5 linked regions of the Homo sapiens genome follow. The protein of the gene in region 1 interacts with the protein of each later gene in a biochemical or structural test. Each region holds a gene or a part of one and is shown in the gene's direction. Other genes may lie near its edges.

Region 1 (2,930 bases):
AATCCCAGCACTTTGGGAGGCTGAAGCAGGCAGATCACGAGGTCAGGAGATGGAGACCATCCTGGCTAACACGGTGAAACCCCGTCTCTACTAAAAATACAAAAAATTAGCCGGGCGTGGTGGCAGGTGCCTGTAGTCCCAGCTACTCGGGAGGCTGAGGCAGGAGAATGGCATGAACCCGGGAGGCGGAGCTTGCAGTGAGCCGAGATCGTGCCACTGCACTGCAGCCTGGGCAACAGAGCGAGACTCCGTCTCAAAAATAAATAAATAAATAAATAAAAATAAAAATGCCTTCAGGCTGTGAGGATGAGTGGGTGGGGCAGCCAGGGCAGAGTCAGGGAGTCTCTGGGGGCCCTGATCAGGTGTGCCTGCTGTCCACCCCCCACAGCTATGAGGTGTCAGGTCGCATTGAGGCCATTGAGGGCTCAAGAGAGGACATCGTGGTTCCTGTCTACCTGCGGGAGCGCACCCCTGCCCGTGACTACAACAACTCCTACTACGGCCTGATGCTTTTTGGACACCCCCTCCTGGTATCAGTGCCCCGGGACCGCTTCACCTGGGAGGGCCTGTATAACGTCCTGATGTACCGGCTCTCGTAAGTGTCCTCTTCCCCGGGGGTGGGGGGCGGAGGGGTCTGAACTCCGACTTGGGTGTTTAGCTGCTTATTTGACACCTCCCCTGTAACAAACAAAAGACAGTCCAAACTTAACATGGCCATAGAAGAACTTGTAGGGTTTTTTCTTTCTCTAGACCTCTGGCTTTGCTACTGCCTGTCTTGGGTGCTAGGGATACAGAGGTGAACAAGATGCACAAAACAGACAACTTCATCTTGTCTTCAGTTGTCTCTCCTGGAGACTGTTGTCCCTCCTGGGAGAGTCTTGGTTTTTTTGTCTTTTTGCTGACAAATTTTCATTTTGCCTAAAATCTAGAGTCTTTACTGTGGCACACAAAGCATTGTGTTATCAGAATTCTCCCCCCTCATTTTGCATTCAAAAGTCATTCCCCAGAGGCTTTCCCTGATGGGAAGTTACAGCCGGTATGTGTCTTGTCTAGCAGTGGCTTATTAGAGTAAAAGTCCACGCTCCATACCTTTTTTTTTTTTTTTTTTTGAGATGGAGTCTTGCTCTGTTGCCCAGGCTGGAGTGTAGTGACATGATCTTGGCTCACTGCAACCTCCATCTCCCGGATTCAAGCGATTCTCCTGCCTCAGCCTCCCAAATAGCTGCAATTACAGCCGCGCGCCACCACGCCCAGCTAATCACACTCCACACCTCTGACTGGGACACAAGTTCCTTCATTCTCAGGCCACTGCTGACAGCCTTGGCCTCTTCATGCATTTACGCGTCACCCCTTCAGCCCTCTCACACCTCAGATTCAGAACGGTTTACATGTGGATCTACCAATGGCTTCCCATTATCTTAAGTAAAATCCCGGGCTCTATCCCCACTGTCCTTGTACCCGTCTTGGGAGTCTCCTCTGCTCTGTTGCAGACGCTACGTGACCAAACCCAACTCAGATGATGAGGACGATGGGGATGAGAAAGGTGAGGGGGCTAACAGTCAGTGGGCGGGGGCTCTGGGTTAGGTCTGACCCACGTAGGGTTCGTCTAGGTGTGCATTGCAGCTTAGCACTTGAGGCTCACACCTTCCCATCTCTGACATCCTCCTGTCCTAGAAGATGACGAGGAGGATAAAGATGACGTCCCTGGGCCCTCAACTGGGGGCAGCCTCCGAGACCCTGAGCCAGAGCAGGCTGGGCCCAGCTCTGGAGTCACGAACAGGTGCCCGTTCCTCCTGGACAATTGCCTTGGCACATCTCAGTGGCCCCCAAGGCGACGACGCAAGCAGCTGTTCACCCTGCAGACGGTGAACTCCAATGGGACCAGCGACCGCACAACCTCCCCTGAAGAAGTCCATGGTATTTCCTTTGGCTATCAGCGAGGGCTGGGGAGGCTGGAGGGGAGATTTCCTGGCAGCAGGATCCATGACCACCTCTCCCTCACCCCCAGCCCAGCCGTACATTGCTATCGACTGGGAGCCAGAGATGAAGAAGCGTTACTATGACGAGGTAGAGGCTGAGGTAAATGAGATCCCAGGGATGGGGGGTACTTCCAGCTCTTGCCCCTCAACTCTTCGTACATCCTCCCCACAACTCCTCTAGCTGGGAACAGAGCCAAGAGATCCAGGTCAAGCTTGGCCTTGGGGCCTGAACACCTACTGAGAGCTCCAGGGCCTGAGGTTCCTAGCTTCAAAGTCGGTGCTCTGACCCACTCAGTGTGTGTCTCCCCCGCTGGGCCCCCACTCCCCATTTCTCCATCTGTCCTCACAGCCGGCCATCTGGTTGTCTGTTCACCCAATCCTAGGGCTACGTGAAGCATGACTGCGTCGGGTACGTGATGAAGAAGGCTCCCGTGCGGCTGCAGGAGTGCATTGAGCTCTTCACCACTGTGGAGACCCTGGAGAAGGAAAACCCCTGGTGAGGGGCCAGAGCGGGGCCTGTGTGTGGGGGTTTCATTGGATGGAACTACTATATTTAGCTTTTTTTTTTTTTTTTTGAGACAGAGTCTGGCTCTGTCAACCCAGGCTGAAGTGCAGTGGTACAATCTCGGCTCAGTGCAACCTCTGCCTCCCAGGATCAAGCTGTTCTCCTGCCTAAGTCTCCTGAGTAGCTGGGATTATAGGCACCCACTACCATGCCTGGCTAATTTTTATATTTTTAGTAGAAACAGGTTTTGCCACGTTGGCCAGGCTGGTCTCGAACTCCTGACTAAAGATGATCCACCCGCCTTGGCCTTCCAAAGTGCTGGGATTACAGGCGTGAGCCACCACACCTGGCCTATATTTAGCTCTTTAAGTATACCTTCCTCCTCCCTCCTCCACACTCAAACCCTTCTTGCCAACCTGGCCACCAATCTCCTGAGCAGACTCCTA
Region 2 (3,520 bases), on another chromosome or scaffold:
GCAGGGGAGAAAACTGGATAGGAAGGTGCTTTATATCTTCATTAGTTGAACTGATAGAATTTCCAGACTGGGTTTATTTTATTTTATTTTTTTTTCTTTTCTGAGACAGAGTCTTGCTCTATTTGCCCAGGCTGGAGTGCAATGGCGCTATCTCGGCTCACTGCAGCCTCCACTTCCCGGGTTCAAGCGATTCTCCTGCCTCAGCCTCCCGAGTAGCTGGGATTACAGGCACCCGCCACCAGGCCCGGCTAATTTTTGTATTTTTAGTAGAGACGGGGTTTCTCCATGTTGGTCAGGCTGGTCCGGAACTTCCAAACTTGGGTGATCTGCCTGCCTTGGCCTCTCAAAATACAGGTGTGAGCCACCGCACCCAGCCAGGTTTATTCTTTTTTGAAAGTACAGTACTCTGTTAAAATTCCTGTGTAAACTGGGACTTTTCTTTTCACTTTCTTGTGTTTCAAGAACAGTAGGTGTTCCAGGGCTTTTGTCCTGCTGGGTACAAGCAAGTAGGATTTTGAGAAGGTGTGAGGAGGAGGTCAGAAAAATTGGTGGAAATAGGAAAGAGAAAGAAATATGGCCCCGATTTTGGGGAGAGAAAGTCTGGGGAAAGAGCAAAGGCAATTAAAGAGGATTTTGAGGAAGAGACTTCTGTAAAATATGTCTTAGCAACACTTTTTGGAGTTGAAAATATTTCTTTTTAGTGTGTTATTTTTTCTAAGAGGTGCCTCAAGATGGATAATGGAAGATTTGGAGTACGATTGGGTTGACAATCCAAGGAGATTCGGTGACATCCAGATTACCCTGAAATAAAAAAAAAAAAAAATTCTGGAAAATGAGAGAAGTTTAGATTCTTAGAAAATCTTCTGATAGTTTCTATTTGTGAATTTATAGACTTTAATTTATTACACAAAGTTTTTAAACATTGGTGCATATCAGTTTTCCTCATTTTATAGTAAGGAAACTGAGGCATAGGCCATATGATAGCCAAAGATCACATAGTGGTAGTGTCTTCTGACTTAATTCAGCAGGCTTCATTGCACAGGTTCTTCATTGCATTTACTAGTTGTGTTTATAATGTTCCTCTTTGTGGTATGTCAAAAGTGAATTCAGATTCCTTTGGCCATACTCACTCTGTGACCTGGAGTAAATTCCTTAATCTCTAATGTTTTCTATAACATGAGGGTTACATTAAATAAGTACGTAAAGTACAGTACTCTCAAAATATCCTGGCGTATTAAGCAATTAGCTAGTTCACAGAAATTCAGCTTGTCTTGTCATTGCTAAGGAACCAATCATTCAGGTTTAACCTCGTATACCTAGAGACTTAATAATTGCAGTTAAACTCGAGGTGCTGTATTTTTACAACTGTAGTATCATAGTGTGTATTTTTTTTTAAAACTAATTGATCCCGTTTAGAGAGATGTGCCTTTCAAGGTACGTTACAGAGTGACTATGCGTTAGTAAATATAGGTATTTCCATAGTTTATTTAATTAGAGATTAAAAGATGAGACTAAATGATACATTTATGGACAAAGTTGAATATCTGCCACCTAACTTAAAAAAGATCCTGTTTAAGGCCGGGCACAGTGGCTCATGCCTGTAATCCCAGCACTTTGGGAGGCCGAGGCAGGTGGATCACGATGTCAGGAGCAGGAGACCAGCCTGGCCAATATGGTGAAACCCAGTTTCTACTAAAAATACAAAAATTAGCCAGGCATGGTGGTGCACACCTCTAGTCCCAGCTATTCAGGAGGCTGAGGCAGGAGAATCTCTTGAACCTGGGAGGTGGAGGTTGCAGTGAGCCAAGATCATACCACTGCACTCCAGCCTGGGCGACACAGTGAGATTCCGTCTCAAAAAAAAAAAAAAAAGATTCTGTTTAAATATCTCAGAGGAATATAATCAAAGCCTATTGGTAAGAGGGGAGTTTTTGGGCGGAGGGTGTCTTTTTTGTTTGTTTTTTTGTTTCACTGTTGATGATATCATTTGGGGCAGTAAATTGAAACTAAGGAAAAGTTTTCCTTCAGAGAATTTAGATTGCAAAAATGTTGGAATCTTCTCTGCTCTCTATAGCATTAAGAGTAGTAGAAAACTGTAATGCAATTTAAAAAATTCTCACTTTGTACTCTAATTCAAAATTTGAAATAATCACGCAGGCTTACTGTACAAGTTTCAGATTGGGACATCAGATTTTTATTGAGTAAAAGGTTTAAAATTTTTGAAAACCAAAGTGCTATATAGATAGTATATACTCAAATATTCATGATTATGAAAAATTATAGAAAAAATATCAATACTTATCTTGCTTTGTAATATATACTTACTATAAAGCAGCAACTTTTTTTTATTTTTTATTTTTTTGAGACGGAGTTTTGCTCTTGTGGCCCAGGCTGGAGTGCAGTGGTGCGATCTCGGCTCACTGCAACCTCTGCCTCCTGGGTTCAAGCTATTCTCCTGCCTCAGCCTCCCGAGTAGCTGGGATTACAGGTGCCGACTACCACACCCAGCTAATTTTTTGTATTTTTTTGGTAGAGACGGGGTTTCACCATGTTGGCCAGGCTGGTCTCAAACTCTTGACTTCAGGCGATACACCTGCCTCGGCCTCCCAAAGTGCTGGGATTACAGGCATGAGCCACCGTGCCCGGCCAGCAGCAACTATTTTTAAATAGCCCAAGAGTTTAGGCAAAGTTCTACCCTTTCTTCCATTTCCTCTAAGTTACTGAATCTTGTCAATCCTAATGAACACAGCAGACATTGGATAGGCCATAAAGCTTAAGGCAGCAGAAAAAAATTAGGAGTAAAGAGTTTCCTGGCCAGGCGGGGTGGCTCATGCCTGTAATCCCAGCACTTTGGGAGGCCAAGGTGGGCAGATCACCTGAGGTCAGGGGTTCGAGACCAGCCTGGCCAACATGGTGAAAACCCCGTCTCTATTAAAAATACAAAAATTAGCCGGGCCTGGTGTCAGGCACCTGTAATCCCAGCTACTCGGGAGGCTGAGGCAGGAGAATCACTTGAACCTGGGAGGCAGAGGTTGCAGTGAGCCAAGATCGCGCCATTGTTCTCCAGCCTGGGGGACAAGAGCAAGACTTCGTCTCAGAAAAAAAAAAAAAAGGAGTAAAGAGTTTCCTGTGAAAGAGAGTTGTCAGTATGTATTACATAATGTTATTTGACACTTCTTGTGTGAGCCTTCTAGAGGTAACACTGAGTAGCAGGAAAGATTTGTGCCTCAAATGCTTCTGTCCTAGACAGTAACGGTAGAAGTTATTAGCACAATATGCAGGTGCCAGCATTATAGGTCTGGCCAGCTTAGGAAATGAAACATAGCTACAGGGCGTATCTTGTGAGGTGGCTTCAAAATCATGGTCCAGTCTTAACTACTCTGTAGTCTTTAATTTAGAATTAAGTAAAACTAACATTAAAGAAAAAACAATTATGTAATACCAGTTTTATCACATCTGGAAGAAGTTAGTCTTTTGTCATAAAAGTGAAGCCATCCTAGGCGATTACGTAGAGCAACAA
Region 3 (3,520 bases), on another chromosome or scaffold:
ACACAGAAATTATCCGCTCTTGATCTTTACCTTGTTTTGTACTGAAAAATACTTGTTATAACTATTAAAGATATAAGACATAAATACAGAAAATGAAAATATGGTAGGATTTGGAGTTGCAAGAGGAAAAATCAGTTTTGGATGTGGTATCAGACAAACTTGTGTTCCAATTCCATCTCTGCCATTTGTTAGCAGAACGACCATGAGCAAGTTATTTAACCTTGAATCCTCATTTTCTCTGTCTTTGAAGTAGAAATAATAATAGTGGCCTCACAGAATTATGATTAAACCCTGGCATTTAGTAGCCACTCAGAAACTCATTCTGCCTTTAGATGTAACAACCAATTAGTGACATAGCCAAAAGAATGACCCCTGTATTTTTTGTTTACTTGAAGTTATCACCTTTTCATCTTGATTAACCTTGAAACCATGGAGTGTACCTGAATGCATTTCTGAGTTTGGGTATATTCAGATTCATCCTTTTCCTCCCTTGAAATACATATATTTGAGGTTTTGTGTTTTTTTTTTAATATAGAGAATCTCCACTCTTCCTGGCACTGTGTTTTGCTTATAGTTATGGTCTTATCCCCTTCCCTTTGTAAAGTTAGGCATCCCAAATATACAGAATGAAAACAGTAAATTTAAGCTATTAAATGCCAGACTAGCTGAGATCATACTTTTATGATAACTAGCTTTAACATGCAGTTTATAGAAATGTATCATATATAAAATGTGGGATAAACCTGAGTTATGTGTTTATAGTTGAATTTCTGTAACTACTATATGACATAATCTTAGAACAAGAATTACATGCACATATATTAGTAGCATAATACCACGTGGTATAATACAACGTAGTCCCTGAATAAATAAAACAGAGATCTTGGGTCTCTTTGTTTTTTCTTGATGATTACATTGCAGGAAGTGATATTTTTTCATCTAACATATAATGTATTTTAGATCATTTGTTTTAGCCTTCTAATATTTTGATTGGGATTTTAAAATATGAAGTAAATTTATAGTTCTATTCTTTTAAATGTAACATTAAAAGAATTATTAAATCTAACATAAAATGGATAGATGTTTAATGAAATATGCTATCTTACAGCCAAATTTGTATCCTACTGTGGGGCTTCAAACACCAGGAGAAGTGGTCGATGCCAATTTTGGGCAACATCCTTTCGTGTTTGATATAGAAGACTATATGCGGGAGTGGAGAACCAAAATCCAGGCACAGATAGATCGATTTCCTATCGGAGATCGAGAAGGAGAATGGCAGACCATGATACAAAAGTAAGAGTGAAGAAATTTCAATTGATGCTATTCAGAATCTGTTTTTTATAAGACATTTATTCTGTTGGTATCCACAGAAGCTTTTTAATCCACTAATTTATATACTGACATATCTATTATATTATTGATTTTAATCTCTCAACGAAAAGTAATTTACTCCACTATTTAAACAAATTAAAAACAATTGTTTGACACACGTACAGAATTGTATTTCAGTCTGAATTAATTTGATGAAGGAAATAAAATGATGTTAGGTCACCTAGGCTAGGTTAATTCATTTGCTATTCTTAGTAATAGGATTTAATGATTTCTGTAGGTTATACAATTTAACTTTTAATAATGTTAATGGAAAAGATAAAGTTGAGAGATAATCTAGATCTTATAATCAGGATCTGTGGTTTTTGGTCATGAACTTGGCTATGTCCAAGCTCTTAATATCTGAACTATCAGCAGTAGTTAAGTATGGACTTAAAATTTAAATAAATACCATTAAATTTAAAAAGTCCTCTTCACTATTATAATCCAGGTCAAGAAAATAGCAGACTTTCAGATACAGTTGGTCCAACACATTTCATCTTTAATGTCCTTATAATTGCTTTGAATATTCTTAACTTTAAAATTGTAATAAAATGTTGGGGGTATTTTTTAGAAAAGGAAGTGATTGGGAGACATGATGATGACTCTGAAATCACACTTCGTCCCTGGAGCTATTATCATCTGTATTACAGAGATTGGACACTAGTTTTTTTGTCCAGCCCAGTTGAGAATAGACAACCCTGATGCAGAATCCTATAGTCACCACGAAGTGAAGCTAGAATGGGTTGTTCTGGGGCCACACTGTTTTAATGCTCTGAAAATGGTTACCACTGAGTATCATGGCAAGATAGTAGAAAACATTTATCTTAACCTTATAACCAGGATCCTTCCACCCACTTCTTCACTGACTTGATGTTCACCATGAACTCTTGAGAAGTCCATTCTAAAAGGTCCCCTCCCCCTTAAATTAATTTGAACAATTGGGTAAAATAAGATGCAGATCTGTTTCTTAGACATTTTCCTCCCTTTTCTCCCTCCGCTCTTTGCCTCAGTCTCCTCCTGTGGTGAACCACTGCTTCCCACGATTTTCTAACTGGCCCTTAGTAGTGTCAGGTGGAGGCAAGTTTAAAAATTGACTGTTTGGAGATAACAGATATTTGGGTTAATATTGTTGCATCACCAGTTTTTCTAACCACATCTTGTGGGTAGATGTAAGTATATGTTTTGACTACCTGGTACGTTTTTAAAAGATTATTGTCTTGGAAATGTGTCACTTACATGTAAACCATATTTGATAAATCTCTTGGGTAAAACCATAGTAATTGATTTAGATTAGAAGGCTGATTCCTCCTTTAATTAGTAGTACACTTATAGACATGTTCTGGAAGATTGTCTCTCTGGATTCACCTTAGTATTCTGTACATACTTTGTGATCCCACTTCATTTAACCGGTGTGTAAAGAAGATGGTTGAACTCTGGAACATTAAGAGTTAATCTTTTATTTTAAAGTTGGTTATTTTACAGAATGCCAGCAATACTGGAATAAGTCATATGATAAAGTCAAAATAGAAATTATGGTTAGTAGGGCTGAATAATAAGATAGGAAGGGACCTGGGGGTAATGAGAGTCCAAGAATCAAAGAAAAGGTCATTTAATGTCCTTGATTCTCAAGTAATATTTATTTTAGGGAGAGTAGTCTCAACATAGCATTTGCAGTTATCTTTTCGAAAATAGTACATGAATAGAACAAAATGATGTTTTTCAAAAGCTTACTTTAAAGGTGAGGTTCTTAACGCCTTGTTTCAAGGAAATAGGTTCGTTTTTATAACACCAGAATAGATTTTGTTTATATAAATTGTAGTATGAAGCATGTATTCTCTTCACTAAAAGATGTATGTTTCTTCTTTTTATTTTAAGAATGGTTTCATCTTATTTAGTCCACCATGGGTACTGTGCCACAGCAGAGGCCTTTGCCAGATCTACAGACCAGACCGTTCTAGAAGAATTAGCTTCCATTAAGAATAGACAAAGTAAGGACACTGTGGTGCATGGCTAACATTTGTTTTCAGATTATAGATTTGGTTACTTTAATTTTTAGAAATTTTGTTTTTTTAATTAAAAAAATTTCAAATATATTAATTTAAAATGGATGCCTCTGAATTTTATTTTCACTGACATTTTTGAAGATCAG
Region 4 (3,520 bases), on another chromosome or scaffold:
GTGAATAATCTTTCTCTTGCCTTTTAAAACAGCAAAAAAGAAGAATAAGAAGGGGAAGACTATCTCCCTAACAGACTTTCTGGCTGAGGATGGGGGTACTGGTGGAGGAAGCACCTATGTTTCCAAACCAGTCAGCTGGGCTGATGAAACGGATGACCTGGAAGGAGATGGTAACTTTTCTTTTGTCATCGTGTTTGGAATGTTTATTATTTTCTAGACAAAACCTATTACATAATAATTCACATCGTTTGTAATCTGAAAAGAACTTACTCATTTTTTAGCACCTGAAATCTTACATATTTTATAGAATCTAAGGTTTAATCTGAGGTTTGGGCTGTCAGACTTTGCAGTGAAGACTGAAGTGGTCATTTAAGAGAGCTTTGCTAGTTCTTGTTCTTGCATTAACAGACTTCTTAAGTTACTATTCTTTTGGGCCTCATTTTCTTCATTTTAAAAGTAAGAACTAGATCATCTTTTAAAATTCCTTTTAGGTCTAAAATTCTATGGGGTCCTCATAAAGTGATGTTTCAGGCTGCTCGCGATGGCTTACACCTGTAATCCCAGCACTTTGGGAGGCCGAGGTGGGCAGATCACATGAGATGAGAAGTTCAAGACCAGCCTGGCCAACATGGTGAAAACCCATCTCTACTAAAAATACAAAAATTAGCTGGGCGTGGTGGCATGTGCCTGTAATTTCAGCTACTCGGGAGGCTGGGGCAGGAGAATTGCTTGAACCTGGGAGGCGGAGGGTGCAGTGAGCTGAGATCATGCCACTGCACTCCAGCGTGGGAGACAGAGCGAGACTCCATCTCAAAAAAAAAAAAAAAGTGATGTTTCAGTGTAATCTGTAAGCTATGTTTACTCAGAGCCAAGGAATAATTAGTTCCAGGTGTCATTAGTATAAAATCAGAGTGTCCTTGGGTAAACGAAAATGGTCTGAGGAAAAGGAGTGAGAACAGTAATTATGGTGGGAAAATAAAGAAGAGTCAATTGGACAAGTTCTGTGCCTTCAGGGAGTCGCCAGGAATAATAAGGAGCTATGTTTTATAATGACCGGGTATGACATAAATCTCATTACCATTGTTTTTTTCCTGAAAATCGTTTATTGCATGCTGAAAGAATATTTTTTCCTATGACCTGTTTTCATAATTCCTAAAAACAGGAAATTTTTTTTGAGACAGAGTCTCTATTGCCCAGGCTGGGGTGCAAGTGGCGCACTCTCTGCTCACTGCAACATCTGCTCCCGGGGTTCAAGCGATTCTCCTGCCTCAGCCGCCTGAGTAGTTGGGATTACAGGTGCCCGCCACCGCGCCCAGCAAATTTTGTATTTTTAGTAGAATCAGGGTTTTACCATTTTGGCCAGGCTGGTCTTGAACTCCTGACCTCATGACCCACCTGCCTCAGCCTCCCAAAGTGCTGGGATTACAGGCATGAGCCACTGCACCCGGCCAAAACAGGAAATTTTATATAGGTCGTACTTCCCATAGGTGTTGGTATCTGAAGTACAAATTCATGGACAGTGCTGTAGGAAAAGATTTTTGTTGTGATATTTTTGTTTGTTTGTTTTCAGATGGAGTCTCACTCTGTCGCCCAGGTTGTAGTGCAGTGGCACAATATCTTGGCCCACTGCAACTGCCGCCTCCCGGTTCAATAGATTGTCCTGTCTCAGCCTCCCAAGTAGATGGGATTACTGGCACATGCCACCACACCTGGCTAATTTTTGTATTTTTAGTAGAGACAGGGTTTCACCATAATGGTCAGGCTGGTCTCAAACCTGACCTCAGGTGATCACCCACCTTGGCCTCCCGAAGTGTTGGGATTATAGGTGTGAGCCACCGAGCCAGGCCTGTTGTTGTTTTTAAGGGAGGATAGACCATGCAGAAAAATACTCAACTTCAAACTCACCACTAGGAATACAAGAGTTGTCAGTAGTGGTTAAATATACCTGGAGTAAGAGGGACCCAGGTTTGAATCCTAGCTTTACCGTCTGTGACCTTGGGCAAATTACTGTCTGAAATCTGAGTTTGCTTTTCTGTAGAATGGGGGACAACCTCACAGGACTGTTAAAAAGATAAGATGGGATATAATGAATATAAAGTAGCTGGCACACAGTAATATTCCATAAAGAGTTGTATTTATGGAATAATATTTCTTTGCTTACATAAAGATTAAGGTGTCATAATTAATCTCAGAAGCTTCTCTTCGTAAAGTGCCCTTATTACTGAACCCCCACTTTTTTTGGTCTGGTTTTCTTGTATAGCATGTTTAATATTTGGCAATTAACATGGGTCCTCTTGTTCTATGACAGTAGTGAGAGAAGTTTCTTCTAATTTCTTACATTCATTCCTCTATCCTAGTTTCGACCACTTGGCACAGTAACGATGACGATGTGTATAGGGCGCCTCCAATTGACCGTTCCATCCTTCCCACTGCTCCACGGGCTGCTCGGGAACCCAATATCGACCGGAGCCGTCTTCCCAAATCGCCACCCTACACTGCTTTTCTAGGAAACCTACCCTATGATGTTACAGAAGAGTCAATTAAGGAATTCTTTCGAGGATTAAATGTAAGTGTAAAAGTTGTAATAATTAACTAGATATTGAGGATAATGTCTAAAAAAGACTAATTGTGGAATGGGCAGTTGCTGTTGAAAAAACAACTAGAAATATAATTTAAGGCCGGGAATGGTGGCTCACGCCTGTAATCCCAGCACTCTGGGAGTCTGAGGCGGGTGGATCATTTGAGGTCAGGAATTCGAGTCCAGCCTGGCTAACGTGGTGAGACCCTGTCTCTACTAAGAATACAAAAATTAGCTGGGCGTGGTGGTACACGTCTGTAATCCCAGCTACTTGGGAGGCTGAGGTAGGAGAATTGCTTGAACCTGGAAGACGGAGGTTGTGGTGAGCCGAGATTGCGCCATTGCACTCCAGCCTGGGCAACAAGAGTGAAACACCATCTCAAAGAAAAAAAATAAAATCAAAATTATATATATATATATTTTTTTTTTTTCTTTTTTTTTTTTTTTTTTTTTTTTGAGACAGAGTCTCATTCTGTCATCCAGGCTGGAGTACAGTGGATTACATGCCCAGCTAATTTTTTGTATTTAGTAGAGATAGGGTTGCACTATGTTGGTCAGGCTGGTCTTGAACTCCTGACCTCAGAGGATCCACCTGCTTCGGCCTCCCAAAGTGCTGGGACTACAGGCATGAGCCACTGCACCTGGCCTGAATTAATCTTTTTTTTTTTTTTTTTAGAGTTAAATTCATACAGTTCAAAATTCAGAAGGTATAATAGGGCATTTAGTAAAGTTTCTACTATCCCTCTGCATCAGTTTTCCTCCTGAGACAACCATGTTCTTGTGTATTCAGAAAAATTCATGCACATACAGTAATGCTTTTGTAGTCCTCTCAAAAAATGACAAATGAAGAAGAATGCTGGGAAACTTTGTTGTTGATTCTTATTCCTTCAGATCAGTGCAGTGCGTTTACCACGTGAACCCAGCAATCCAGAGAGGTTGAAA
Region 5 (3,520 bases), on another chromosome or scaffold:
CTCCTTTCCTCGTTTGTAAAATGGGAAGGCTGTGGGGATTTGCGATGCAGTGTCCCGTCTCTGGACCCTGGTTGTAGCGAGGGACTGGCTAGACAAGGTCAGGTGCAGCAAGGGCGTGGTATTATTGGTGGGAGAGAGAAGCCCCAGCCAAATCGCCAACTCTGTCCTTAGGTGGGCTTACTGTCCCAAGGGCCCAGATGAGAGACTGAAGCTTGGAGAGTACTGAGTCTTGGAGAGTACTGTGACTTGCCCAAGGCCAGACAGCTAGGCCGTGACCAAACCAGCTGCCCAGAGGGCTCAGTCCCCACCTGGATGGGCAGAGGCAGGCAGGGAGGGAGGTTCGCGTTACAGGCTGGGAACTGGGGTTTCTTACAAATGTGCATCTTCCTGAGGCAGTGGGTCAGGAATTACCAGTGGTAAAAGTGAAAAATAAATAACAACAACAAGATAAAAGGAGTTACCAGTGGCCCACGTGGGTGTCCTGCACTGGTGTTCAGGATGGGGCTGGAGCTCAGCTGTGCAGGCTTCCCAGGGAGGGCACAGCCAGGCCAAAGACAGGAGACTGGTGCAGAAAGGGTGTGCTGTGAAAGGGGCAGGGGAGCGGGTGGGGAGCTGTTTCATCGACACTCTGGGCACACAGACCCCCTTAACACCATCTCCGCCCCTGATGGTTATGGGAGTCATGTTGCCCAGCTGTTGGCAGGTGGGGAGGTGGGAGGATGCCTTCGGGGTCCAGGCAGAAAGCTACCCCTCTCTGGGCCTCTGTCTCCCTGTGTCTGGGAGGAGTCAAAAGCCTCTGCCTAGCTGATCCTGGATGTTGTCCCTTGACCTCTGACCTCCACTCAGGCCTGTGTTTGGGGAGTGTCATGGTCATCTTGCGGGACTCCTCCGCAAGCTTTAGTCTGTGCCTCTAAAAATGGGGTGCAGAGCCCTTCATGGAGCAGGTGGGGCCTCATCAGTGCCTGCACCTCTGTGAGCCTTGCTTCACCTGTTTGTTGCTGGAGCCTCCATGCAGTGGGGCCCACATGAGCCTGTGTGCATTGAGGGGCACAGGGGCTTGGCAAAGGGCGGGCCTCTGTGGACTATGCACGCGGTACAGTCATGGTGGAGGCTAGGGGTTTAGCCACCTCCCCACCAACTGGAGGCATGATAACCCATTTCACAGTTGAGGACGCTGAGGCACAGAGCAAGTAGACCTGCCTCCTACCCCCAGTGTGTCAGCTGCAGACCCTGGAGGCTGCCTTGGGGTGGGCCTCAGGGTGGGCCATGGCAGAGGTGCCTGGGAGTGCTTACCCCCAGCAGCCCTCCCCTCCTTGCAGACTGTGGAGCATGGCTTCCCCAATCAGCCCAGCGCCCTGGCCTTCGACCCGGAACTTCGCATCATGGCCATCGGCACCAGGTCTGGGGCTGTCAAGATGTATCCTTTGCAGGACAGGTGTTCAGGGTCTGTTCAGGACCACCTGCCTGTAGTTCCCTGTGCTCTGGGGTCCCAGTCTTGGCAGTGTCCAGCTCGAGAGGAGGACAGAGGTGCTCTGATGGGCAGTAGTGGGGGCTTCTGCGGAGGTTGGCGTGGCTTCTGTACCTGAGACAACTGTGCAGAGATGATGGGGTCCTTTTGCTGAGAGACGGGTGGTGGGGGGTCAGTTTGCAGTAGCACAGCTGTCCCTTGCTACGTGTCAGCCAGCCAGTTACCTAGGCGACCCTGCCATCGTCCCAGCAACTCTGGGGAGGCCAGGCAGAAGGCTGGGCTATGATACCCATGGAGGGTGGCAGGTGGGCTGGGGGCCCTGGTGAGCTGATGCACACATGTGTGAATGTGAAGACACATGTGTTCAGCAAAGGGGCCTGGGGGCAGTGCCAGGCTCGGCATGGTGAGCACAGCACGGCCCCCACCTGGATACTGGCTGCTGCACAATGGGCTGTGTGAGCCACACAAAGCGGGCATTTTCCCTGCAGGCCTGGGGTGGGGGTGGGGGCAGGCCGGCAGCTCAGTGTCTCCTTGCCAGCCCTGGAGAATCCCACCCCAACTGCTCTTGGGGAAGCCGAGGTGCCAGGGTCTGGCTGATGGCGGCTTGGTGAGGGGTGCTGACCCCTACCCCTCCTGTGTGGCCTTCTGGGTTTCAGTATCCTGGTTTCAGACATCAGTTCCCAGAAAATGTGTCAGTGCTGGGAAAGGGGAGGGTGTGGGATGGGGGTCTCCTCACCCCAGGACTGGGGGCACTGATCAGGCAGGGATGGGACTCTGAGCCTGTGGTTTGTGAGCTCTTTGCCTACTCTGGGGAGTGTGGATGGGCTGAGATGTCCCCTTCTCTCCCATGGCCCCAGCGGCCTCTGTTGGTGAGTGTGGCAGTGCTCTGGGCCCCACATGCTCCGCTGCCTGGCCTGCTGCTCCCACTCCTGTGGGTGCTGCGCTGCGTGCGCACATGTGTCCCTGCAGCCTTCAGGTGTCCCTCCTGTGTTGGGGTCTCCAGTGCACTTGTCCTCAGGCTCAAAAAGAACCTGAAGTGCAGATGAGGAGACTGAGCCTCAGAAAGGAGGCTGGAGCCCGGGGTCCTCTTCCCTTTTTCCCCTGACTGCCACTGCCTGGAGCCCCTTGGGTTGGGAAACTGAGGCTGGAGAGGGCCAGCCCTGGTCACTAGAAGCTGCCCCTCCCCCTGCCAGGCCAGCCCCATCTCCTTGACGACCCTGGTTCCCGCCCAGCTGCTCCTGTCCCCTCTTTTGTCCCTTCTTCGGAGTTTCTCGCCAGGCTCCTGTAGGGAATCTGAGCTCAAGCTCCAGGCAACGGCTCCTGTGTTGTCACCGGGGCAACGTTGCTGACTCCTCCCTGCACCCTCTGTCATGGGGCCCCCTCAGGCCCTGCTGTCCACCATCAGCCCTGGAGTTGCCGGGACTCAGGCACTGACACTGGGCACTTCAAGCAGGTCATCCACCCCCTCCAAGTCTGTGTGCTCATCTGTGAAATGGGCAGGCTGGAGTCTCTCCTCCCTCATGATGGCAGTTGTTGGCTGCCTGCTTTGGAGGGAGGTGGGTTTTTTTTGTTTTGTTTTGTTTTTTTGAGATGGAGTCTTGCTCTTTGTTGCCCAGGCTGGAGTGCAGTCGCACAGTTTTGGCTCACTGCAACCTTTGCCTCCCGGGTTCAAGCAGTTCTCTGCCTCAGCCTCCCAAATAGCTGGGATTACAGGTGCCTGCCAGCATGCCCGGCTAATTTTTGCGTTTTTAGTAGAGACGAGGTTTCACCATCTTGGCCAGGCTGGTCCTCAACTCCTGACCTTGTGATCTACCTGCCTCGGCCTCCCAAAGTGCTGGGATTACAGGAGCGAGCCACCGTGCCCAGAGGAGGTGGGTTTTCTTACCCATGGCTGAAGTTTGGCCTGAAGCTGTGGGAAAAGGCAGCCTGGACTCTTCTGCCCCCTGGCTTTCTTGTCCAGGCCTGGCCTTGCACCTCTGGCCTGCCTGATCCCATCCGGCAAGGCGCAGCTCCCAGAACCCATAGACACACGGAGCTGAAGTGGAGCGGAGC

Evidence for each region.
Region 2: of the proteins of USP11 (region 1) and RPS6KB1, one has a biochemical effect on the other in vitro, tested with the Homo sapiens proteins (one study listed by BioGRID).
Region 3: the proteins of USP11 (region 1) and RANBP9 form a complex in vitro, tested with the Homo sapiens proteins (one study listed by BioGRID).
Region 4: of the proteins of USP11 (region 1) and EIF4B, one has a biochemical effect on the other in vitro, tested with the Homo sapiens proteins (one study listed by BioGRID).
Region 5: the proteins of USP11 (region 1) and LLGL1 form a complex in vitro, tested with the Homo sapiens proteins (one study listed by BioGRID).

What each region holds. Positions count from the first base shown.
Region 1 is NC_000023.11:47,243,008-47,245,937, forward strand, and holds part of USP11 (ubiquitin carboxyl-terminal hydrolase 11), read left to right. Parts: intron 1-388; coding exon 389-595; intron 596-1,490; coding exon 1,491-1,543; intron 1,544-1,674; coding exon 1,675-1,917; intron 1,918-2,008; coding exon 2,009-2,079; intron 2,080-2,362; coding exon 2,363-2,475; intron 2,476-2,930.
Region 2 is NC_000017.11:59,896,109-59,899,628, forward strand, and holds part of RPS6KB1 (ribosomal protein S6 kinase beta-1), read left to right. Parts: intron 1-3,520. UniProt on the Homo sapiens protein: Serine/threonine-protein kinase that acts downstream of mTOR signaling in response to growth factors and nutrients to promote cell proliferation, cell growth and cell cycle progression.
Region 3 is NC_000006.12:13,642,318-13,645,837, reverse strand, and holds part of RANBP9 (ran-binding protein 9), read left to right. Parts: intron 1-1,108; coding exon 1,109-1,293; intron 1,294-3,246; coding exon 3,247-3,359; intron 3,360-3,520. UniProt on the Homo sapiens protein: May act as scaffolding protein, and as adapter protein to couple membrane receptors to intracellular signaling pathways. Acts as a mediator of cell spreading and actin cytoskeleton rearrangement.
Region 4 is NC_000012.12:53,016,441-53,019,960, forward strand, and holds part of EIF4B (eukaryotic translation initiation factor 4B), read left to right. Parts: intron 1-32; coding exon 33-170; intron 171-2,357; coding exon 2,358-2,566; intron 2,567-3,469; coding exon 3,470-3,520. UniProt on the Homo sapiens protein: Required for the binding of mRNA to ribosomes. Functions in close association with EIF4-F and EIF4-A. Binds near the 5'-terminal cap of mRNA in presence of EIF-4F and ATP.
Region 5 is NC_000017.11:18,228,622-18,232,141, forward strand, and holds part of LLGL1 (lethal(2) giant larvae protein homolog 1), read left to right. Parts: intron 1-1,319; coding exon 1,320-1,417; intron 1,418-3,520. UniProt on the Homo sapiens protein: Cortical cytoskeleton protein found in a complex involved in maintaining cell polarity and epithelial integrity. Involved in the regulation of mitotic spindle orientation, proliferation, differentiation and tissue organization of neuroepithelial cells.